7 linked regions of the Homo sapiens genome follow. The protein of the gene in region 1 interacts with the protein of each later gene in a pairwise test. Each region holds a gene or a part of one and is shown in the gene's direction. Other genes may lie near its edges.

Region 1 (4,020 bases):
TGTCACTTGGCTCTGATCTTTCTATTGCCTATTTTAGGACATTTATTTAGGATAAGCATATAATTTGGCCACTTTTGAAACTGAAAGGAGGCCGGGCGCGATGGCTCATGCCTGTAATCCCAGCACTTTGGGAGGCTGAGGCAGGTGAATCACCGGAGGTCAGGAGTTCGAGACCAGCATGACCAATACGGTGAAACCCTGTCTCTACTAAAAATACAAAAATTAGCTGGGAGTGGTGGTGCATGCCTGTAGTTGCAGCTATTCAGGAGGCTGGAACAGGAGAATTGCTTGAACCCGGGAGGCGGAGGTTGCAGTAAGCCAAGATTGCACCATTGCATTCCAGCCTGGATGACAGAGTGAGACGCCATCTCAATAAACAAACGAAACAAACAAACAAATACAAAAAACCTAAAAAAACCAAAAAACAAAAAAGAAACTGAAAGGAGGGGTTTTAACAATCATATTAGGATAACAGGCACACTTCGGGCTTCACCATTGTACAAAACAGAGATTTTGCACAGGGCTTTTCCAGTTAAATTTTAGGAAAGCTGGGTAACATTTCTATACCATAGTTTTCTCTACCATAACATCGGGTTAATAGTAGTACCTGGGTCCTGGGTTATTGTGAGGATGAGATGAATTAACATATGTAAAGCATTCAGAACAATGACCTGTATGTAGTAACCATTTAATACATTTAAACAATAATTAGCATTATTATTATATCTGTGATATTGGGCAAAGTAATTAACCTCTCTAAGCATGTAAGAATTGAATGTCATCACGCATATAAGGTACATAGCACCGTTGCTGGCACATCATGTAAAATAAGTGCCTGAGTGACCACCTCCCTCCTCCAGATGCTTCTCTTACAGTGTGACTTTGTCTCTTCTTGCTATGCACCTAACACTGTTCTACCTCCAACCCACAACCTCTTCCCACTTGTCTACCCATATTGTTGCTTGTGTTTCCTGTTCCAGCAATGTGTTAAGCAACATCTGAAAGCCAGAAGACAGTTATCCCTCACACCAGTTTCCTAATCATCACTAAGCCCTGGGGAAACACAATGGATCAGCGAGGCCCCAAATGCAGATGTGATTAGCACACTGGTCAGTCAGCCCGCAAAACACTTTCACCAAGTCCTCTAAAGTGTTGCATAAGGCAAAGATAACGTTAAGTCTGTGGAGGCTTCCGTTATCGGGAAAAGATGCTGTAGTGATCTTTTCTGAGTGTCTCCTACTTGCGACAAGGTGGACTTGGGAGGAAAGCCGTCTGCCAAAGCCTGAAGCCTCCAAGGTATAGATTCCCTCTCCATAGACATTCCCCTTTCTTTTATATCTTTCGTTAAAATGCCTCCCAGTGGACTACTGGGGATGTCTGCAAAGGTCTCTGTTTGGTTGCTATGTAGAGGTTTGGAACATTTAACTGTGAACATGGCTTCTCTTTAGGATGTGATGATTCCTTTGGAGCCATGATAAAAAGTGTTAGACATAATAATACAGCAATTTCTTTGGGAAAATGTGGGTATGGATACACACACATGCACACGCACCTCTTAGGTACATTAAATCCCACTGGCTGCACCTGAGTTTGTCTGCCAGCTCTGATGATGAGGGGTGGTCTCGATATGCCTGAAGTATGGGGTCTGCAAAGTGCATTTTAGCATAGCTCAGGGGACAGTGGAGTGTAATGATAGCTTGAGGTTCTGATTTTTAGCTTCTCAAATTGCTGGCTGTGTGGGCTTGGGAAAGCTACTTAACTTCTTTGTTCCTCAGCTTCTTCATCTGTTAGATGGAAAGGATCATAGCAGTAGTACCCATTCATCTGATGTTGTGAGAACTAAATTAGTAAACATGGATAAAGCCCTTAGAACAAATGCCTGCCACATACTAAGAGCTGGAGAGATGAACTTAACTGGCAGTTTCCTAGAAAATCTACATTTCTCTGATTTTGTGTGTGTGTGTGTGTGTGTGAGAGAGAGACAGAGTCTCGCTCTGTCACCCAGGCTGGAGTGCAATGGCACGATTTCGGCTCACTGCAAACTCCGCCTCATGGGTTCAAACAATTCTCCTGCCTCAGCCTCCTGAGTAGCTGGGATTACAGGCGCGTGCTGTCACAACCAGCTAATTTTATGTGTTTTTAGTAGAAACAGGGTTTCACCATGTTAGCAAGGATGATCTCAATCTCCTGACCTTGAGATCCTCCCGCCTCTGCCTCCCAAAGTGCTGGGATTACAGGCATGAGCCACTGCACCCGGACCATTTCTCTGATTTTTTTAAAAATAAATAACTGATTTAACCAAATTTTAGAAAACATAGTTTGTTTCACCTGGAGGCTGAAAATTCTCCCTGATTATTTTGATTATTTGAAACAAATCAAGTTAAATAATATGGTTAGATATTTGCTCTCTTCAGAAATGCTCTTGGAGTTTCTTGAGATGAGAGGCTCCAGTGCTTGCAGAGGTATTTTCCATCATCATTTATCAGGATGGCTACCTTGGGCTGGACCAAAAGTCTGGTTACTGATTGAACATGTGTGTTAACTGAGTGCTTGCCATCTGATGATTCTGAGCTAGGCACTGGAGTTGCAGTGATGAGTAGACAACGAGGTAACAGACAAGTATCCAGGCAATTAAAGCTCAGGCTGATTAAGTGGTATGAGAAGGAAAGTTGAGGAAATTTTGAGAGCAACCCAAAGGGGTGCATGCTTCTTCCAGAGTTGGCCAGGACTAAAAACAGCATCCTGGAAGTATGACATGTGGGCTGAAAATCAGTCTGGAAGGGCCGGGCGCATTGATTCACGCCTGTAATCCCAGCACTTTGGGAGGCTGAGGTGGGTGGATCACCTAGGTCAAGAGTTCGAGACCAGCCTGGCCAACATGGTAAAACCCCATCTCTACTAAAAGTACAAAAATTAGCTGGGTGTGGTGGTGCACGCCTGTAATCCCAGCTACTTGGGAGGCTGAGGCAGGATCATAGCTTGAGCCCAGGAGGCGGAGGTTGCAGTGAGCTGAGATCGGGCCTCTGCACTCCAGCCTGGGAGACAGAGCAAAGCTCCAACTCAAAAAAAAAAAAAAAAAAAAAAAAAAAAAAAAAAAATTCAGTCTGGAAGGAGAGCAGAAATTATCCAGGTGAAGCTTGAGGGGACTTGTCTTTCAGGAATGGGGGATAGCACAGAGGATTGAAGACATTTGAGGGTTTAGAACTTCTGAAGGAAGACAAATCAAGAAAATAAGGCTGGATGGAGTTTTGAGATAGGGATGGGTGAGGGGTGAGGCAGGAGACGTAGGCGAGAGATTATCTGGTCATAAAGCAGCAACATTCTCCGTATTGCATGCATCTTAGTTCATTAGATATTTAATCCAAAATACACACAAATTTCCCAGTGGATAAATTTGAAGTCTTGGCTTTTTGGCTATTCTTATTTATACTTTTTGCAGATAATTACGTTAGGAACTTATTCACATAGAGTTTGCTTTAAGCTTTATTGATCTTCCCTCGCTCTTGGGTTCTGTACAGTGTTGAACACGGGGGGTTAAGGGTTCCTTGTCATTTCACATTTATCCATACTTAAATACATACAGAATGTAATTTAATCTTGGCATGAAAATCAATATTGGTAGGAAACTTTGATGAAGAGTATTGGTAGCAAAATTTTATGACATTTATAATAAATGTTTTATCAGTATTGGTAGAGAATTTTATGAATTTTTATAGCAATTCCCAGTGTAATAATAAAACATGGCTTGACTCTCACTTTTAGTCAATGCTTAGTAAATTTGTCATCACACTTAAATGAGTCATACACACCCCCAGAGTAGAGTATCAGAAAGGTAAACATCCTGAAAGTGGCGTGTATTTAGCTTGACAAAAAATTAAGTTATTAGAAAAATGGATCTAGTATATAATTTGTAACAAAGAGTAGAAATTAAGATACTATACTTTCTTTTTCAATAAAAAGCTTTTATTTTAGGTTTACGGGTACATGTACAGGTTCGTTATATAGGTAAATTCGTGCCAC
Region 2 (3,500 bases), on another chromosome or scaffold:
TTTTTCTTCTTAGCACCTATCAACACCTGACATACTATGTATTTAATTGTTTTATGACTTTCTTTCCTTAAAATATGAGCTCCTTGAAAGAGGGACTGTGTTCATTCTGTTTACTGCCGTCTTCTCCAGTGCCCAGAACAGTGCCCAGTGCAGCGGAGACCCCCCACATGCTTTCTCATTGGCAGAACAGCACAGTTGTTAAGAGCCCCGGCTCTGGGGCCAGACGGCCTTGGTTTGCAGCAGGCAGAACCACTTGGGCAAGTCACTCTAACTCTTTGTGCCTCCTTTTCTCATGTGTGAGTTGGAGATGGTAATGGTACCCACTTCATAGCGTTCCTGTTTTGATTAAGTGAGTTATTACTAACGAAGCCTTCAAAATAGTGCCTGGCACATGGTAAATAACGCTCAGTCCATGTTGCTTTTACTGGTCATGTTATTATTCTTCCCCTCTGTTTGAATTCTTTGGCTAGAATGAAAATGTCAAACTTAGACAATGCAAAAATTTCTTTTAAAGAACCTTAAGGCCAGGTGCAGGGGCTCACGCCTGTAATCCCAGCACTTTGGGAGGCCGAGGGGGCGGATCACGAGGTCAGGAGATCGAGACCATCTTGGCTAACACGGTGAAACCTCATCTCTACTAAAAATACAAAAAATTAGCCAGGCATGATAGCGGGCGCCTGTAGTCCCAGCTACTGGGGAGGCTGAGGCAGGAGAATGGTGCGAACCCAGGAGGCAGAGCTTGCAGTGAGCTGAGATCGTGCCACTGCACTCCAGCCTGGGCGACAGAGCGAGACTCCGTCTCAAAAAAAAAGAACCTTAAACATTTTCTCTTTTTACGACTTTGGTGCAGGTTCTCCACATACGATTCTACTTGTCAAATTGCCCAAGAAATTGCTGAGAAAATTCAACAACGAAATCAATATGAAAGAAAAGGTGAAAAGGCACCAAAGGTAATACCATGAAGGAATTAGTACCCAATGATTTGTTTGAGTTTTGAGGCCTGAAAACCCTCCTATCTTTCTTTGAGGCTGTCTGTGCACATGTGTGTATGATGATCTATCTGCTTACATATGTTGAATTGACATAACACCCAACCAGTTAGTAGTGATGTAATCATTGAGACTAAATGAGGCATAACACATTTAAGTTCTCCTGTTTTACTTTAAATATTTCTAACAATTTTATAGTCTAGTTCAGGGGTTAGTAAACTTCCTACAGATAATAAATCTTTTAGTCTTTGCAGGCCAAGAGATAATGTCTTCAAGTCTTTGAGTTTCCATTCTCACCACAAGAATAGTTATAGTTTTTACATTTTACATTAAAAATGTAAAAACAGGCCAGGCATAGTGGCTCACACCTGTAATCCCAGCACTTTGGGAGGCTGAGGCGGGCAGATTGCTTGAGGTCAAGAATTCGAGACCAGCCTGGGCAACATGGGGAAACCCCATCTCTACTAAAAATATAAAACCTAGCCAGGCGTGGTGGCACACACCTGTAGTCCAGCTACTCAGGAGGCTGAGGCAGGAGAATTGCTTGAACCTGGGAGGTGGAGGCTGCAGTGAGCTAAGATCGTGCCACTGCACTCCCGCCTGGGCAACAGAGTGAGACCCTGTCTCAAAAAAGAAAAAAATGTAAAAACCATCTTTAGTTTTGGGCTGTATAAAAACAGTGGTGGGATTTGGCTAAGAAATAGATTTTTGTGAAATCACAAGTTTATACTTGTGACTATGATTGAAAATAGAAGCCTCTGATTCAAATCTAACACCACACCTTTCTTCCTTATTTTCCACATTCCAAATTTGTATTTTCTTTCTCTCACACTGAGAATCCTAGTTTCCAAAAGCATCAGTATGTTTTTACTCATTTGGTCTATTTTACAGTTTACAGAAAATGGTTTCAAAATTACTATAAGGTACCACGACAAACACTGAGTTCAAAATTTGAGTCTTTTTAAGTGTAGACTAATCTACTAAGAATGCTGAGGTTATTATGTTCCAAAGTTATTAGAATTATTTTTTAACTTTCAAGTTCAGGGGTACATATGTGGGTTTGTTGTATAGGTAAGCTTGTGTTATGGGGATTTGTTGTACACGTTATTTTGTCACCCAGGTATGAAGCCTAGCACTTACTATTTTTCCTAATCCTCTTCCTCCTTCCAGCTTCCTCCCTCTGCTAGGCCCCAGTGTGTGTCATGTCCCCCTATGTATCCATATGTTCTCACCAGTTAGCTCTCTCTTATATCAACAGAGTGAACAAACAACCTACAGAATGTGAGAACATGCGGTATTTGGTTTTCTGTTCCTGCATTAGTTTGCTAAGGATAATGGCCTTCAGCTCCATTCATGTTCCTGCAAAGGACATGATCTCGATCTTTTTTATGGCGGCATAATATTCCATAGTGTATATGTACCACATTTTCTCTGTCTGGTCTACCATTGGTGGGCATCAGGTTGATTCTATGTCTTTTGTTATTGTGAATAGTGCTGCAGTGAACATACACATGCATGTGTCTCTTTTTTTCTCTTTTTTTTTCGAGACGGAGTTTTGCTCTTGTTGCCCAGGCTGGAGTGCAGTGGTGCAATCTCGGCTCACTGCATCCTCTGCCTCCCAGGTTCAAGCCATTCTCCTGCCCCAGCCTCCAGAGTAGCTGGGATTACAAGTGCCTGCCACCATGCCTGGCTAATTTTTGTATTTTTAGTAGAGATGGGGTTTCGCCATGTTGGCCAGGCTTGTCTCGAACACCTGACCTCAGGTGATCCACCCACCTCGGCCTCCCGAAGTGCTGAGATTACAGGTGTGAGCCACCCCACCTGGCCACATGCATGTGTCTTTATGGAAGAATGATTTCTATTCCTTCGGGGATATACCCAATAACGGGATTGCTGAATCAAATAGTATTTCTGTTTTTAGTACGTTGAGGAATTGCCACACCGTCTTCCACAATGACTGAACTGATTTACACTCCCACTAACAGTGTATAAGTGTTCCTTTTGCTCTGCAACCTCCCGAGCATCTGTTATTTTTTGACTTTTTAGTAATAACCATGCTGAGTGGTGTGAGATGGTATCTCATTGTGGTTTCGATTTGCACCTCTCTAATGATCAGTGATGTTGAGCTTTTTTTCCTGTTTTTTTTGGCAGCATGCCTGTCTTCCTTTGAAAAGTGTCTATTCGTGTCCTTTGTCTGCTTTTTAATGGGGTGGATTTTTCTTGTAAATTTGCTTAAGTTCCTTATAGATACTGGCTATTAGATCTTTGTCAGATGGATAGCTTGCAAATATTTTCTCACAATGTGTAGGTTGTTTGTTCACTCTGTGGATAGTTTCCTTTTCTGTGCAGAAGCTCTTTAGTTGATTAGATCCTATTTGTCAATTTTTGCTTTTGTTGCAATTGCTTTTGATGTCTTTGTCCTGAAATCTTTGCCTGTTCTTATGTCCAGAATAGTATTGCCTAGGTTGTCTTCCAGGGTTTTTATAGATTTAGGTTTTACAGTTAAGTCTT
Region 3 (3,500 bases), on another chromosome or scaffold:
CTTTTTTGTTTGCTTGCACACTCTGCCTGCCAGTTTCCTATCATCAGGGATGCAGGATGATCTCAGGGCAGACATATGCCACATAACATGCTCCAAAATATCGCTAGTGTTCTCTCCGTTAACCATTGAAACCCCCATGTTGTGGAATCCTGTAGCCAGGAGGCAAAACTTGATTTGACTTCTGAAGAGGAACGTTTTCTTTCTTCTTCCAAGCCTGTGTTACAAGCGTTAGAAATTCTCTCATGTTTAGGTGTAGTTTCCATTGGGATAGATTTTACCTATGAATTCCTCCTTAGAATTCTGAAATTGCTCAGATTTACCCAAATGACAGCCAGTTTCTCATTTCACATTTGGGGGCTGTAGAATCTTCCAACATTGAGAACCTGTTTTAATCAAAGGATGCTTTGTGGAATCCTGAATGAGGAACAGCATGTTGCAGGAAGAAGAGAAGGATCCTGATGCCCTAATGGGACTGATTTCCTTTTGGGGGGCAGGAAGATATATATTCGTTGGGTGCTTATAAAAGGTTAATTCCAAAGATTGTGTATGGTTAAAGGACTGAAAGTCACACTTAGCCTCATACTTCACTTAGATGAAAAACAAAAGCCTTCCTCTCCATTACCTTGTAAGATCTATTCCTTGTGTCTTGTGCTGAGTGGACCTGGAATAATGGATAGCCCTCACTGAGTACCTAGAAGGGACTAGGGTGGTGATGAAGGGGTTCACACCGAAGATCTAAGTGCTAGCTGGGTACCTTTAACAGTACACTTGCAAGCTATACAAGGAGAAGGATTGGGTAATATGCTAGTAAAAATAAGATGGAGAGGAATCCAATAGCTGATGCAATTTCAGGTGTTTAAGTATGTGATATTGTGAAATGAACTCTGGAATCCTCAGGGTTTGTGGTTATTTCACAGTTAAGCCTGAAGTGCTCCATTGTTTTGATTGACAACATATTGGTGCTCTTAAGAAAGTGATTTGGATTTTAATTTCAGGGCTATTAAGGGCCTTTACTTCTACTTCCTATTAACTACAGATTTAATTAATACACTTGCAAGGCTGAAAAAGAGCAGAGAATAGAAGAGGGTCTGAAGGTACTTGGCCACATTGTGGAGGACTTTATATATATTTTTTCTGCATCCATTTATCTTACCATCTTGCTTCCTAACCTTTTCTAGTCTCCTAAGCTAAAATCACTCCATGCAGATTCGCTAAGGTCCAGGAAAGGGGAGCACATTTGACAAGGGGATGCAGTAGCTTTTATTCGAGGGGAGGCTAAAATGGTAAGAGCACTCCAGGTCAGGAGACTCAACACTGAGAAGACCTTTCTCATTGGGAATGGATGTGATGGACAAAACCATCCCAAACGAGCATATCTGAAGCAGGGGTCAGCCTGTGAACCTGAAAAGTGGTTACTTTAGGACAAATATTAGCGAGTGTGATTCTACCCAGTGAAGGAAAAGCACCCTTATTGTGACACGTGTGGTAGGAAAATACAAATGAGTTTAAAATAATGGTTAGTTAACCCATTAAGGGGTTTGAGGTGGGTCATCCAGGGGTATTTAGGGATTATCCTTTGAGGTCAGTATAATTGAGAACAACCACTAGAGCCTTGTTACCATTCTGTCTGGCCCTTGAGCAATTCCCAGATGGCAACTGCTGAACACCTGCAGGAAGTTACCCTGATGCTGAGATAAAATTTGCACAGGGGCTCACTATTGGCCCCCAAAATGTGTTATTCAGAGATCCTTAGTCTAAAAGCACAAGTGGCCAGGTATAGTGGCTCATGTCTATAATCCCAATCCTTTGGGAGGCCAAGGGAGGAAGTTGGTTGAGGCTGAGTTTGAGACTAGCCTGGGAAGCAAAGGAAAACCCTGTCTCTCTAAAAATTCTTAAAATTAGCCAGGCATCGTGGTTCACACCTGGAGTCCCAGCTACTCGGGAGGTTGAGGCAGGAGGATTGCTTGAGCCCAGGAGGTCAAGACTATAGTGAGCTATGATTGGGCCACTGTACTCCAGCCTGAGCAACAGAGCAAGACCTTACCTCTAAAAAAATATTAATTAATTTAACTTAATTAAAAGTAAATAAAAGCATAAGTTAGGTCAGGTGGAAAGAAGAAGACAGGCAGCCCTGGAGCAGAGCTTGGCTCCTAGGCAAGCCTCCAACCTCTCTTTGGTACTAATTGCTTCAGAGTTCCCATTTGGAAGTTAAGCCTGTTAATCATGCAGATCAGGAAGGCTATCCAAAGTCAGAGGCAGCCTCATAGAACACTTTATAGCTAAATAAAAGAAGCTTAACTCACTTAATCTATTTTATTTAGAGGAAAATTTGCATCCACGCTGATAATTTATGTGCCAAGCTTCAGCCCGATAAAAATAAAAATAGTCAAGTTCAAGTAATTTAATCTTAGAAATACAGGGTTTGTAATAGAAATAGCACCATAATTGACACCTAATTGCAGGCAAACTAGTGGGCATACGTTTATTGAAGTTTACTAGGCATGATGTATAGTTTATCCAAAATGCTGCTGTTTTGGCATTTAGTTTTTCATGTTTGAAAATTCGTCTAGGCATCCAACAACCAGGCATTCAACACTAATCCTATGAAACAGCTAAAAGAAGGGAAATGGGCAGCGCATTCTGGTTAACCACTACTGTGCCAACATAACTGCCCCTTCCCCCACCCCCACCAACATGTCACTTGCTTGCCTGTGACATCTTAGGTTTCAAAGGTACATTCAGATATCTGAAATTTGTGCAAGGCGTGTCTGACTGCTGGCTAACCAAAGCAGCTCACAGGCCAAAGGTTACGGTGTATGCATAATTTTTCCCCTCAATTTTTAAGGAAAGTATTAATATTGCTGAGAAAGTCCAATTTTCTTTGCCTCTTCTTTGTTTGCTGTAAATAATGAGTGATTATGCAGACATGAAAGTCAATGGTGGCACAAGGTTCATTACCCTACTTTGCAGAGGGTGGCGAGGTCTGTTAACAGCAGGCTGCTGCAAGAGAGTTATTAAGGATGTGAAATCTCATTGGAATGTGTGCTTTCTATTTGAACAGATGACACCGTACATGAGTCAGCCGAGCCATCCCGCGGCGAGAACGCGGCACAAACACCAAGGATACCCAGCCGCCTTTTGGCAATCCTACTGTTCCTCCTGGCGATGCTTTTGACATTATAGCACAGTCTCCTCCCATCACTTGTCACAGAAAACATCAGGGTCTTGGAACACCAGAGATCCACCTAACTGCTCATCCTAAGAAGGGACTTGTTATTGGGTTTTGGCAGATGTCAGATTTTTGTTTTCTTTCTTTCAGCCTGAATTCTAAGCAACAACTTCAGGTTGGGGGCCTAAACTTGTTCCTGCCTCCCTCACCCCACCCCGCCCCACCCCCAGCCCTGGCCCTTGGCTTCTCTCACCCCTCCCAAATTAAATGGACTCCAGATGAAAATGCCAAATTGTCATAGTGACACCAGTGGTTCGTCAGCTCCTGTGCA
Region 4 (3,500 bases), on another chromosome or scaffold:
GAGGAGGTATGGGAACCATACCTGATAGTCTCAGAGGTTGACATAGCTCTAAACTAGCAGGGGAATGAATGGGAGTGGAAGTGGTGTTTAGCTGGCCTTGATCCTTGTTCAGGGTCTATAGTAGCATGTCTGCAAGAGCAGGGGCTGGAGGCCTAAGGACTGGGGGTGCTGGTCTTCTGATATCTGTGGGTCAGTCAGCGTTGTCCAGGGTGGAGAGGAGGTCAGGGCCAGGGGGTCCTGGGATGGAAAGTCTGGTAGGTGAGACCTTGGCTTAGGCACATGGGGTCCCTATCCTGGGGTGGTCCAGGGGTGCCAAGCTTCATGGCTCTGTGAGACCAGTGCCTTCTGGAACAGCTTTTTGGTCTCAGATGTACACATAGGAGAGCAGTGCCAGGCTCCTGGGTTCTTTTACCACCTGCCCTAGGGTGTCGTCCTGGGTCTTCAGACTATTATTGCACTCTGGACTATGGGGCCCTGCTGTTAGGGTGATCTATGTGTGCCTCCCTCAGCAGGGCTTTGGAACTTGGAAGAGGTTGAGAGGCAGAGCCAGCCCCTGGGACAGAATAGGTAATAGACAGTTCTGGGGGTCACCCAGGGACAAGTGAGTCAGGGGCCCTGTAGGGCTCATTCTACCTTTTGCCACTCTCTGACTAGGAGCGGAAGCTGTGTGCCTATCCTCGGCTGGAGATCTACCAGGAAGACCAGATCCATTTCATGTGCCCACTGGCACGGCAGGGAGACTTCTATGTGCCTGAGATGAAGGAGACAGAGTGGAAATGGCGGGGGCTTGTGGAGGCCATTGACACCCAGGTGGATGGCACAGGTACAGAAGGTGGGGTATGAGGATGGGGCCCTCCTGGAGCTCCTCTCTTCTGGACTCCAGGGGCTTGGTTGAGGAGGCTCCTCCCTCTCTGGGTTGGCACTGTGGGTGTCAGGCTATGCTTGGCAGAGGGAGGAAGGAGACCCACCTACCTGAGGACCCACATGTGGAGTTGCCTGTTCCCAGACACATGGATCTACATAGATGTGGATTCACACACATTACCTCCTGGCAACACAGATACAAAGACCCTGCCTGGATTCCCTCCAGATGCAGCAGGAGTACCCTTGGAAACAAAGATCACAGACAGCTCGATGTTCATGGGAGGGGGCTGAGGCTGCTCAGGAAAGGAGTCCCTTGGGTGGGGCTCAGCAGGAAGTAAGATTGGCATAGATCTGGAAGGTAAGGAGGGGAGCAAAGTGTTCTCTTGTCCCTCAGTACGGGCCCCACCCAGAGCCAGCTGCTTTCTCCCTGCCAGGGAACAACCAGGGAGCATGCAGAGGGGAGCCAGGAGATCAGTCACCTGTGCCTTTCTCCAGGGCCAGCCCACACTCCTGCTGGCAGCCTCAAGGCCCCAGGTCCAGGCTGGAAGGCTGCTTGCCTGCCCACCCCTCTGCAATGATCTGTGACCCCGGGCTGTCTCAGGCACAAGGGGGTCTGCTGGGTTACATCCCAGATGGTCCCAGGGGGCCTTATCCTTGGCCAACCTGGTGGAGTTTGTGACTTCTAGGAGTGGTACAGGGCTGTGGGGAGAGGAACTGTCCCTCCTCTCCTCCTTCTTTAGCAGATGCTCTGCCCATCCAGTCTTCAACAGCCAAGGTCACCCTAGGGAGACGTGTCAGCTAGGGCTGGGTAGGAGGGTATTGGGAGCAGTCTCTACTCCCTAGGGGCCTGTGTCCAACACAGTTAACTTCATCTGCCACTTAATTACCTCCATGGGGTACAGCTCCCTTCTGCCTGGTAGTGCCCGGCAGACACTCTTCAGTGCCCCTACTGTGGGCACAGGACATGGCACAAGGTCAGCAGGCCCAGGCAGCCTCCAGGGCAGGAAGACAGAGTGCCTTCACTTTACTGTGACCTCCCTCTGCTGCCTGCCTCCCCCTCCTTGACCCACCCACCCAGCTTCCTTCCCTCCCAAACACTGCCTGTCAGGGTCATTGAAGGACTGCTTGGCACCCACTACAGCTGGCTGTAGTGGCAGCTCCCACATTCCCCAGCTCCTCAGCCTGTTTTCCTCCCCTCCAGCCCGCCCACCCACTCCCTGGTGTTGGGGCCAAGGGGTCTGCCCACCTCTCACAGGGCCTGTCCTGACACCCCAGCGGGACTCGGTGTTTGCCCACCAGGTGCATGCCACTGACACAGCAGTTGGTGGTGGGTGCATGCAGGATGTCTGACTGCCCAAGGCTTGGCCTGTCCCTGCCCGCCTCCCTGCTGTGGCCCTAGCTTAGGCCGGGAGGTGAAAGGGGGTGATTAGCTGCCTTGTGCCTGTTATTACATTGATGTATTATTTAGCTTCAGAGAGGCGATGAATATTTGATCGTCTTGCACTGGCTGTGGGCAGAGCGAGAGGGAGGGATTTGGGTGAAGGGGGTGGGCTTCAAGTCCCCTGCCCCAGTAGTCGTGGGGATTTAGGTAGGGCCCTGCCTTGCCTGGTATCTTCTGCCCAGGGATGCAGGCATGGGACTCTGGGACCTCCTCCTGTGTAGATCTTGGTGGGGGTATAGGGATGCTACTTCCCCGTATTGCATTCCTTTTTTTTTTTTCTTCTGCGGCAAGGTCTGGCTCTATCGCCCAGGCTGGAGTGGTGCAGTGGCAAGATCTCGGCTCACTGTAACCTTTCCCTCCCAGGCTTAAGCTGTCCTCCCACCTCAGCCTCCTGAGTAGCTGTGACAAGAGGCGTGTACCACCATGCTTGGCTAGTTTTTGTATTTTTTATAGAGATGGTGTTTCGCCATATTGCCCAGGCTGGCCTTGAACTTGTTAGCTCAAGTGATCCTGCCTCAGCCTCCCAAAGTGTTGGGATTCTAGGGATGAGCCACCATGCCCAGCTGGATTCCTTTTTTTTGTTTGTTTGTTTTTAAAGACAGTTTTCCTTTTTTGCCCAGGCTGGAGTGAAATGGCATGATCTTGGCTCACTGCAACCTCCACCTCGTGGGTTCAAGCGATTCTCCTGCCTCAGCTTCCTGAGTAGCTGGGATTACAGGTGCCTGCCACCATGCCCGGCTAATTTTTGTATTTTTAGTAGAGATGGGGTTTTGCCATGTTGGCCAGGCTGGTCTGGAACTCCTGACCTCATGTGATCCACCTGCCTCAGCTTCCCAAAGTGCTGGGATTACAGGCGTGAGCCACCGTGCCTGGCCTCCAGCTGAATTCCTTTGCTTGAAGTGTATATATGTCTCCAGGGGCTGTCTTCATTTCAGCAGGCTGTCCTGGCCTGAAGGAGGCACCCCTAGGCTCCTTCCTCTGAACATTCCTAGCCTAGGAGCTGGGTGGTAGGAGGTAGCATGCTGGGAAGCAGGCACATTCCTATACCTGGGGTCCCAAGAGAGCCATTGGGTGGGTGGGCAGACAGAACATACAGTTTAATAGGGCCAGGGAGAAACTGTCTCCCTCCTTTGCTCTTTTCAGGCCTGCGGTCCCTGGGGCACTGATCATTATTTAAGGAGCAGTGAGGGCCTGG
Region 5 (3,500 bases), on another chromosome or scaffold:
GTCCTGAAGCCTTGAAAGCCATCCCCTGGGTACAGGTCTTTGTCTTGAAAGAAAGCAACAGTAGAAATGCCTTCCCTGCCCACAGCACTTCAGGTCTAAAGAAGACCAAGTGAGGACAGTGACATGATCAGGAAGGGTCACAGCAGCCATGGTAGGTGAATGGAGCAGCTTTTCCTTCCTTTCCTGCTTTCAGAGCCTACTCAGTGCCAAACTTACATCAAAAGCTCAGCAAGTACTGATTGATTAATCCCTCTTGCCTACGGCAAAATGGCCCTGAGGGCTATCTCTCAGCTCTGCACTGGCCTCTGAGCTGTCTGCCAGGCAGGGCTCTAGAAAAGAGTCCCAAGGAAGAGAATAAGGTTCCCCAAATCAGCTTCACACTGCAACAAGGAGAGAGGAGGAAATGGTGGGAGACTGACCTGAGGAACAAGGTATGGCTACTATTGTCTCTAGTACCAGTTACTTCCCTTTCATCTTCCCATTCGTGGGCAAGGTGGAGACAATGTGCCAAGGATAAGTTTTAACAATCAAAGTCCTACCTCAGCTTCCCAATGCTTGCACATAAATTGGAATGTGTACATCATTCATTCTGTCTCTCTCTGTGTGTGTGTGTGTGTGTGTGTGTGTGTGCGCGTCTGAAGAGGAGTGGGGAGTATAGGAAACAAGATAGTCCAGATGCTGTTGCCGTGGTAATACTAAATCGTGTCCAAAGAGGAGGCTGAGATTCCTTTTTAGTTAACCTTGTCCACATGATTTGACTATCCAGCAGGCTTGGATTCCCAGGCCCCAGAGACTTCGGGACTGTTTTCCAGCACTTGAATGTGGTATATAAGTGCTGATATCAAAAGGGATATGTAGGAAAGACAAGATTATAGGCAGGGCATTGTCTGACCAGGACGAGGCCCGAAGCAAAAGTCTTTGTTTGTCTCTGGCACCTCTTGATAATTGTTGTTTTACTCCTAGAACCCACCCACTGATCCCCATCCATCCCTAGTACCAGTCACGGCTGCTCTAGCATTTCGGCCTTGTCAACTACTGCAGGCCCTGATCAAGGAGGCCTCTGTTCATGGGGTAAGGTTAAGGGGTGGGTTCTGGGAGGAGGGTAAGACTGTAGTGCAGATTCGAGACCTAGGGAGGTGGGGCCAGTTTCTCACTCAATGAGCCTGCCTGTTGTTTAGCTCTATTGTATAGGGTTCTTCTATCTCTCCCTTTGTCAGCTGGATTCAAGGGACAGGCTGGGAATTGTGCAGGGTACAATTGGTCTCTTTCTACCATTCCTTTCGATGAAAGCCCTTCCTCTCCTTCCTTTGATGAGTTCCCAGATTCACACTGAATTTCCATCATGGAGCTGGTCCTTGAGGCGGGCCCAGGGCATGGGAAAGGAGGGAGGGAGGGTTGGGAGCTCTTGGTGCCTGCTTAAAGAGACAGCATCAGGATCAACACAGTCCCTTGATGAACCTGGATCTGTGTAAGTCACATTGGTTCTGTTGATCTCTGTCAGACCGCTGTGAAGAGCGCTGGTGAGAAGGGCTTAAAGTTGGAGTATCAACTATCACAGATTGATTAGACTTGTTTTGGGAGTTTGTATACAAATGTAGCCAACCATGACATGATCTTTTCCCTTTGCTTACATTTTGCCCACACAACTTCGTTATATCCATTTTAACACTTGCTTATAGGTAGCTTTAGATTTTGATTCACAGACATATGTTTGTTCACCCCAACAGGATTTCAAGTTTTCTAAAGAAAGGGACTGGCCTTTTAATTCCCTTCTGTTTCTCCTAATGTCTATGTCACTGCTAGTGTGCTTAATTCTTGTACTGAATTCACATAAACAGAAATGAAAGAAAAACACTGGAGGGGGTCATTATTTTTCTCTATGACCTTTCATCAAAGTCAGGTGGCTTAATCTGACTGAGTTGCATTGAGAAATGTTATTACTATATGGTTCTTTTATGCCAACTCTCTCATCTCGCAGTCTGTACTTAGACTGGAAATGTGAGAATGTCTCTTGAGAGAGCCAAGGAACTTCTCCCCTAGAATCTCTTCCAGCCTTCTTGAATCAAACTCACACCCTTTCAACCAGGAGGGGTTCTGAAATGGAGAGCTTTTGGCTTTAGGCTATTGTTCACACATACCCAAGGGACATTTCTTGGACTGTGAAAAATCAAAGGGAGCCCAATGGATCTTTTCTCAGAATGCTTTGATTGTCAACTACTTTGATGAAAAAATAATTTCTTGCAGGCTCTGAGTTTTTCTCAGTTAGAATCTAAAATCTGATTCTTGCTTGGACAGACTGACTGAGATTCTTCACTTCTGCTGAACTTAAATGCCCCCAAAGCAAACATTTCATCTAGGTTGTGAAGAGATGAACATCTGATGCTTATGCTGATATTACTGAATTGTTTATAGCTTAATAGTGATAGATTTATCTAAAGTCATTTATTTCAGACTTTACATTAGAAACTCATTAAAGCCTACTTCTTTCTTGTCCCTTGCTTTGAGCTGTAGTGGAGCAGAAAAGGGGATGCTAAGTTATTCAAGTTCTAAGAAAATAGAGGAAAAATGGATGTAAAAAGAAAGGCTATGATCTGGTGACTCAGAATTGCTCCTAAGGCTTAGCCATTTATCACCCAGTAAGAACACAATCCATGACACTCTCAGGTTATTTGGATGATGATTGAGGGATCAGATACACTCAAGAGGATGTTTCCCTCTCATCTTTGCAACCCTAGAGGTGGCATCACCTAACGCTTAAAGTGGAGTTCTCTTTTGGCTAGCAAGAGTTCAAGTTCCTCCATCCCTGACCATACCTGCACAAGCACTTAGCCCTTCCCAGATGAAAATGCTGGGATGAGTGAGTAGGCCCAAGATGGTCACTTGCTAGGGTGGATGGCTCTTCTTACCCTCGGCTAAACAAACAGTCCTGCCATTGTTCCCTGAGTCTGACCCCCTCCCCACCCCCCGGCTGCAGGCCCCTGTGGAATACCAATCAGGCTCCTGAGATCTCAGGAAAGAACAAGGCTTCTTTGTCCGGGGGAGCTATGGAGGGCTCTGTCCAAGCCCTGACCCTGTGCTGGGGAGAAAGGGAACAGTGGGGTCACTGACCTTCTTCTCCCCCCATCCCCAGGCTTCAGAGACTTTCTTTACTAGAAAAGTCTAAGAGTTTGGGGGTGGGGAGGAGTTGGATAGGCAGAGAAGGAAAATGGCAGTACTGTTTACTTCTAAGCTCCTTTTCTTGACTTATAGGCTGAATCTAGTATCTTAACCTGTTGAGAAAGAGGAAGATCAATTTCTGGAATGTTTTCTGAGAACAACAATCGATTTCAGTTGTTGTGTTTTTCTCTGTGGTATACATGTGTGTATGTGCACATTTGTACACATGCATGCATGTGCGTGTGCACACACACAGACACACCCATGGGCCAGCTCTGAAAAGACACTCTTCCCAAGCACGTTTGCAAAGTTCATGCTGAGTAAACTCAGCCTCCACTCACAGC
Region 6 (3,500 bases), on another chromosome or scaffold:
TCTTATGTGGCTCCAGCCTAGCTTGTAATATTGGATCAGATAAGGCTGAAGATGAAGAACTGATAGAGGTTCTTTTTTTTTTAACTTAAAAAAATTTTAAAATAGAGACAGGGTCTCTCTATGTTGTTCAGGCTGGTCTTAAACTCCTAGGCTCAAGGGCTTCTCCCACCTCAGCTTCCCAAATGGCTGGGATTACAGGTGTGAGCCACCATGGCGAGCCTGATCGAGGTTCTTGAAGCCTCTATCCAACCTTAACCACTTCTAAGCTTGATTAAATTCAAGAGTAGATTACATGGTGCTGTTAGTACAGGTCAAAAAAAAGACAGGGATGGAATTAGAAATCCGCAGGTTCTACCAGCTCAAGCCCATTGGAGGAAACTAAAGAGCAAAGTTGATCCCTAACCTCCATGTTGAGTTGTGGAAGGTAGCCACAGTTAAGTGCAGTTTGGTCACGCAGGTTTCCTGGAAACTGATATTGGTGGCTTTTTGCATAGAACCATGAGTCATGCATCTAAGAGTCATAGACTTTGACTGTGGGAGGGGTGTCGGTTCCTCTAGATGGTAGTTGGAAGGGGTGGGAGGCTTAATCACTGCCCAGTAACAGTGAAAAGGGGAAGGGGAAACGGAGCAGCATTCTCTCTGGGGCCCTTATGGCATGTGGCAAAAGTAGTGACAATCTTCACCAGGTGAGAAGATTTTCTTACTCAATTTAGTATGAGTCTGGAGAGGTAGAAAGTGGGAGAGGAAGGAAGAAGAGGTTCTTCTTCCTGTCTGTGAAGGAAAGAATCAGTAGGAATGTCCCTAAGTTTGTGGGCACCTAGCCAGCTGGTGTTCTGTGGACAATCAGGTTACACGGGCCTGAACTAATTGTCACAGGATACCAGGATGTTGGGGCTGATGTGACTCTAGGAGGCATCTGGCTCAATTCCTTTCTGTTACTGATGGGTGAGTTAGTTATTTTCCTATGTCCAAAACATCAGTTTATTAGCAGACTGAAAATTCAAGCCCAAGGCTCCTGACTCTGCAGTGTCATGTTCATTCCACTACATCAGATAATTCTGAGGTAATGAGGCTTTGAGAATTCAAAGATGAATAGCATAGATCCTACCCTCAAGGAGCTCACATTCTAGTGAGGGAATAGTCACTTATAAAACAAAATGGTTAGTACAATGGCAGAGGTACACAGGTATTACAGATACTCCTTAGGGCAAGTGAGGGTTGGGTGTGAAGACTTAGACACAAACAGAGAGGACTTCCTGGAAAAGTGACACATCATTAGGATGATGAGTAACTAACCAGAATAAGAGGCCAGAAAGAAAAGAGAAAATTTCAGCAAAGAAACACATTACCAAAGTAAGGAAGGAAGCATTAAGACAAGGATTCAATATTGCTTTGCTAAATTTTAAAGTATAATACAGGGGGTGTTGCCATGAGTGTGGAGTGATGGACAGGAGCAAATTAGGAGGGGCCTTTGACGTAAGTGTACATGCATAAATCCATCACCACAGTCAAAACACTGAGCGTATGCATCACTCACCACAGATTGTTGTGGCCTTCTGTAATCCCTTTCTCTCACCCTTCCCTGCTCCCTCTCTACTCACCTCCTGCCCTCCCCCACCTTCATCCTCAGACAGTCATTGATCTGCTTTCTGTTGCTATAGATTAGTTTTCATTTTCTAAAATGTTATATAACTGGAATCATACAGAATGTACTCTTTTTTATTTAACCTCTTTCACTCACCATGATTATTTTTACATTCACCTGTGCTGTAGAGGGTAACAACAGTTCATTCTTTTTAATTGCTAAGTAGTTTCCATTGTAAAATTATACCACTATTTATTTATACATTCACTTGTTTATGGACATTTGGGTTGCTTCCAGTTTGGGCTATTACAAATAATACTACAAAACTATGAACCTTCCTGTACTAGTCCTAGTATGGACATATGCTTTCATTTCTCTTGGGTAAATACCTAGGAGTAGAATGGCTGGATCATATGATAAGTATATGTTTAACTTTGTACAAAACGAGCAAACTGCTTTTGAACATGGTTATACCATTTTACATTCCCACCAACAGTGTATAAGAGTTCCAGTTTCACTACATCCTCACCAACACTTGGTGTGGTCAGGTTTTGAAAACATTTTAGCCATTCTAGGAGATGTGGAGTGGTATCTTACCATGGTTTTAATTTGCATTTCCTTAATGAGTAATGAAGTAGAGAATTTTTTTCATGTCCTTATTTGCCATCCATATAGTATCTTCTTTGGTGAATTGTCTGTTCTGATCTTTTGCCCATTTTAAAAATTGGATTGTTTATTTTCTTACCATTGAGCTTCAAGAGTTGTTTTTATACTCTGGATACATGCCTTTTATCTCCTGTGTGATTTGGAAATATTTTGTCCCTTCTGTGCCTTGTCTTTTCATTCTCTTAACAGTGTCTTTTGAAGAGCAGAAGTTTTTAATTTTGAAGAAGTCCAATTTATCAACTTATTGTGCTTTTGGTGTCTTATCTGAGAACTCTTTGCATAACCAAGGTTGCAAATATTTCCTTCTGGAGAATTATAGTTTTGGATTTTACCTTTAGATCTATGATTCATCACTAGTTACGATTTCGTATGGAGAGAGGTATAAATGCAAGTTCATTTTTGCATATTAATAGACAATTGTTCCAGCACCATTTGTTGAAAAAAGTATTCTTCATTCTGTAATATATTAATTTTGTATTTTTTTTGAAAATCAGTTGTCCATATGCATATGGACTCTATTCTGTTCTCTTGATATATTTATTTAACACCAGTGCTATCCTGTCTTTATTGTTGTAGTTTTATAGAAAGCAATATAATTAGGTAGTGTTTGTACTCCAATTTTGTTCTTTATCAAACTCATTTTTACTATTCTAAGTCTTTTGCATTCCCAAATGAATTTTAGAATTAATTTCTTGAAGCCTACAAAAAATTCTGCTGTAATATTGATGGGGATTACAATCTATAGATAAATTTGGAAGAATTGACATCTTAAAAATATTGAATTCCTGGTAGATGGACGTGGTATATCTCTCCATTATTTGCATCTTTTCAATTTCTTTCAGCAATGTTTGTTTTTAAGTTTTCAGTGTACAATTCTTTCACAACTTTTGTCAGATTTATGCCTAAGTATTTCATATATGATGCTATTGTAAATGATACTTTTAAAAATACTTGATTTCTAATGGTTACTAGTGCATAGAATGCTATTATTTTTTGTGGATTGAATCTTGTTTCTAGCAACCTTGCTACACTTACTTGTTAGTTCTAGTAGTATTTTTGTAGATTTATTTAGATTTTCTACAAAGACATTCATGATATCTGTGAACAAAGCCAGTTTTACTTTTTTTTCTTTCCAGTTTGGATGCCATTCTTTTCATATTTCATTTGCACTGCCTAGAAACTCCAGTACAATGCCAAATAGAGTAGTTAAGAGTAAACAGACTTATTTTCCTCCTTATATAAGGGTAAG
Region 7 (2,966 bases), on another chromosome or scaffold:
ACGCCCAGCTAATTTTTGTATTTTTAATAGAGTCGGGGTTTCACCATATTGGTCAGGCTGGTCTCTAACTCCTGGCCTCAGGTGATCCACCTGCTTCAGTCTCCCAAAGTGCTGGGATTATAGGTGTGAACCACTGCGCCCGGCCTCTACTTTAATGTGTATCTCATCTCAGCTTGCTGGTCAGCTCCCTGGGCTGCTTGACAGGTTCCTGGACTCTTGTGGCCTCTCAGGCAGAGAGGTCCCACACCTGGTGGGCTGGATTGTAGGGATTAGTTCCTTGGGGCCAGAACAGCACACAGAATGACTCCCCTCCAAAGGCTGGCAGAGATTCTTACTCAGCTGGAAGGCAAATTTAGCAGTGAGCCTGCATCTGCAGGGTGGCACTTGATGGATTCAGGGACAAGTTACCAAAGAGCTGTCATATATACAGCCCCCTTGCCAAAGCTGAGGCCTCCCTAGGGTGTGCATTTTCTTCCATATTTCTCATCACTCTCCATGTATCTCTGGTCTCTCTGAATCTCCCCTCAGCACTCTTACTACTTCTTAAATTCACTGTTGCCAAATGGTGGTTCAGGGAATTCATATTGGACTGGCCTCAGCTCTAACAAGGATTGGAAGTTGACTGATGATACACAACGCACTAGGTAAGTTTGTTAGGACTTCTGGGTATTTTCAACTCCATAATCCCCTCCATAAAGACATGGTAATCAGATTTCCTTCCCACCTGGTCCCCTCAGGACTCTCCCATAAATCAACACTGTAATTGCCTATTTGTCTGTTTCCTCTATTTGATTAATAACTTCTTAGGGCAATCTTATTCTCCATTCTATTTCCACCTAGAAGTCCCTGGCACATACTTTTTTGTTTCAGTAACTACTAGGTTGGGACCTACGCTATCTTTTAGGGGGAGACATTAAGGATTTAGTTAAGGCTCCACAGCTGATGACAGCAGCGTTTCTCCATCCTTCGAGAAGGCCACCCAAACTGAGGTTGTACTTTCTCAGTAGCGGCCACTTGGGGCACTAGAGCTGCCTCAGTGAAGTACGCAAGGGAGCAGCGGGGGTACCATCGAAGCTCCACTTCACTGTGATCAAGACAGCAGTGGGGTACCATTGAGGATCAACCCTAGGGACCCTGAAACAGGGTGGCAACCTCCTTATGTTCCTCAATTGGCCTTCCCATCTTTTTTTTTTTTTTGAGATGGAGTCTCGCTCTGTCGCCCAGACTGGAGTGCAGTGGTGCAATCTCAGCTCACTGCAAGCTCCGCCTCAGGGGTTCACACCATTCTCCTGCCTCAGCCTCCCCAGCAGCTGGGACTACAGGCGCACACCGCCATGCCCGGCTAATTTTTTGTATTTTTAGTAGAGACGGGGTTTCACCGTGTTAGTCAGGATGGTCTCGATGTCCTGACCTTGTGATCCACCCGCCTTGGCCTCCCAAAGTGCTGGGATTGCAGGCATGAGCCACCGTGCCCAGCCTGGCCTTCCCATCTTTAAGATCTCGAGTTATTTTTCCCTCTGCTGGTTCTAAAGTCTGTTTTAGTTGAACTCCAGACATCTGTCCTGAACCATGCCCAGATGTGGCCTTAGGCAGGCAGGGTGAGTTAGGATTTAGGTTTTATACAGGGGAAGGGGAGAGAAGGGAGGGTGGGATATGTCCAGAGCATATCCCAGCTCTACCTTACTACTTTTTAGGACTTATGCTCAAAGCTCAAAATGTAACAAGGTACATAAAACTTGGTCATGGTGGACACTGGAGTCAGAGTCATGTAGAAGTTCTCTTCCCTACATCTGTGAGATGACAGCTTTCAGGTTTCCAGATTAGGACAGTCCTTTGCACTGAGTTGGTAAGAGTGAGGGATGGGGCTGAGGCATGGGGAGTCCAGGGGCAGAGGGACTCAGAGCAGGGACTCAGAGCAGGGGCCCAGGGGCCCGAGAGAAAACTTGTACCTGGGATGAAAGTTCCTCCACAGCCTCCAGTTGCTTGGTCTGCTTGTTAGGGTGGGGTGGGCAGGGAGGGACAGGTAAGGCCTACAACTTATGGGAGGCTGGTGGTGTGGCTGTCGAGAGCTGAGGAGGAGATGGGGTGAGTGGGATGAGGGTTCAGTTAAGTCAACCATGGAGCTCACTGATACTTTACTTTTCCAGACACTCATGCCAACAAGAACCTGTGCCCCTCCTTCCTAACCTGAGGCCTGGGGTTCCTCAGACCATCTCCTTCATTCTGGGCAGTGCCCAGCCACCGGCTGACCCACACCTGACACTTCCAGCCAGTCTGCTGCCTGCTCCCTCTTCCTGAAACTGGACTGTTCCTGGGAAAAGGGTGAAGCCACCTCTAGAAGGGACTTTGGCCTCCCCCCAAGAACTTCCCATGGTAGAATGGGGTGGGGGAGGAGGGCGCACGGGCTGAGCGGATAGGGGCGGCCCGGAGCCAGCCAGGCAGTTTTATTGAAATCTTTTTAAATAATTGCACGTGTTAGTCTCATGTGTCAGCAATGCTGTGTCTGGTTCAGTGATCCCCACGGGAACGCGAGCCGGGGGGTCGACTGGAAGTGCTCTGTCCCTTGAGTCCATGCTGGGGCTCCCCTACACGGGGAGAAGAGCCGGTCAGCCCATCTGGAACTGGCACTGTCCAGCAAGTGTGCTCTGTTCTTACAGGGTGTCCTGAAGGCCAAAGTTGGAGGCCTGAGACCACGGGCTCCACTGCTAAGAGCGTGCCCCAGGCAGCTGCAGGCTGGGTGTGGGTGGCTTGGCGTGGTGCCCTCGGTGGCAGAGGAGACTGCCCGCCTCACAGTTCAGGTTGCGGTAGCGGGCAACAGCTGGTGTGGGGCGGGGGCACATGGACAGGAAGCCAAAGCTGAAGGGGCCGAGGCAGCAGCCAGGACAGGGCAGCCCCTCATCGGGCTCCCGGGGAGCTGAAGGGGGTGGCGAGGGTTCTGTCCGCTCCAGGGCTGCCGCCCGGGGCAG

What was found.
Region 2: the proteins of MS4A3 (region 1) and STX8 interact in binary tests that used the Homo sapiens proteins (3 or more experiments, as listed by UniProt).
Region 3: the proteins of MS4A3 (region 1) and EFNA5 interact in binary tests that used the Homo sapiens proteins (3 or more experiments, as listed by UniProt).
Region 4: the proteins of MS4A3 (region 1) and TEX264 interact in binary tests that used the Homo sapiens proteins (3 or more experiments, as listed by UniProt).
Region 5: the proteins of MS4A3 (region 1) and PLP1 interact in binary tests that used the Homo sapiens proteins (3 or more experiments, as listed by UniProt).
Region 6: the proteins of MS4A3 (region 1) and CD53 interact in binary tests that used the Homo sapiens proteins (3 or more experiments, as listed by UniProt).
Region 7: the proteins of MS4A3 (region 1) and CD72 interact in binary tests that used the Homo sapiens proteins (3 or more experiments, as listed by UniProt).

Annotation. Positions count from the first base shown.
Region 1 is NC_000011.10:60,055,445-60,059,464, forward strand, and holds the start of MS4A3 (membrane-spanning 4-domains subfamily A member 3), read left to right. Parts: upstream 1-1,220; 5' UTR 1,221-1,296; intron 1,297-4,020. UniProt on the Homo sapiens protein: Hematopoietic modulator for the G1-S cell cycle transition. Modulates the level of phosphorylation of cyclin-dependent kinase 2 (CDK2) through its direct binding to cyclin-dependent kinase inhibitor 3 (CDKN3/KAP).
Region 2 is NC_000017.11:9,565,821-9,569,320, reverse strand, and holds part of STX8 (syntaxin-8), read left to right. Parts: intron 1-850; coding exon 851-950; intron 951-3,500. UniProt on the Homo sapiens protein: Vesicle trafficking protein that functions in the early secretory pathway, possibly by mediating retrograde transport from cis-Golgi membranes to the ER.
Region 3 is NC_000005.10:107,380,938-107,384,437, reverse strand, and holds part of EFNA5 (ephrin-A5 isoform 1 precursor), read left to right. Parts: intron 1-3,061; coding exon 3,062-3,183; 3' UTR 3,184-3,500. UniProt on the Homo sapiens protein: Cell surface GPI-bound ligand for Eph receptors, a family of receptor tyrosine kinases which are crucial for migration, repulsion and adhesion during neuronal, vascular and epithelial development.
Region 4 is NC_000003.12:51,698,752-51,702,251, forward strand, and holds part of TEX264 (testis-expressed protein 264), read left to right. Parts: intron 1-654; coding exon 655-823; intron 824-3,500. UniProt on the Homo sapiens protein: Major reticulophagy (also called ER-phagy) receptor that acts independently of other candidate reticulophagy receptors to remodel subdomains of the endoplasmic reticulum into autophagosomes upon nutrient stress, which then fuse with lysosomes for endoplasmic reticulum turnover.
Region 5 is NC_000023.11:103,779,840-103,783,339, forward strand, and holds part of PLP1 (myelin proteolipid protein), read left to right. Parts: intron 1-3,500.
Region 6 is NC_000001.11:110,879,648-110,883,147, forward strand, and holds part of CD53 (leukocyte surface antigen CD53), read left to right. Parts: intron 1-3,500. UniProt on the Homo sapiens protein: Structural component of specialized membrane microdomains known as tetraspanin-enriched microdomains (TERMs), which act as platforms for receptor clustering and signaling.
Region 7 is NC_000009.12:35,609,482-35,612,447, reverse strand, and holds the end of CD72 (B-cell differentiation antigen CD72), read left to right. Parts: intron 1-528; coding exon 529-644; intron 645-1,694; coding exon 1,695-1,824; 3' UTR 1,825-1,846; intron 1,847-2,147; coding exon of another isoform or gene 2,148-2,298; 3' UTR 2,299-2,466; downstream 2,467-2,966. Other genes in the region: TESK1 (dual specificity testis-specific protein kinase 1), read right to left, coding at 2,706-2,966. UniProt on the Homo sapiens protein: Co-receptor of B cell receptor (BCR) that plays both positive and negative roles on B-cell functions. Recognizes the Sm/ribonucleoprotein (RNP) self-antigen ligand, and coligation of CD72 and BCR inhibits BCR signaling.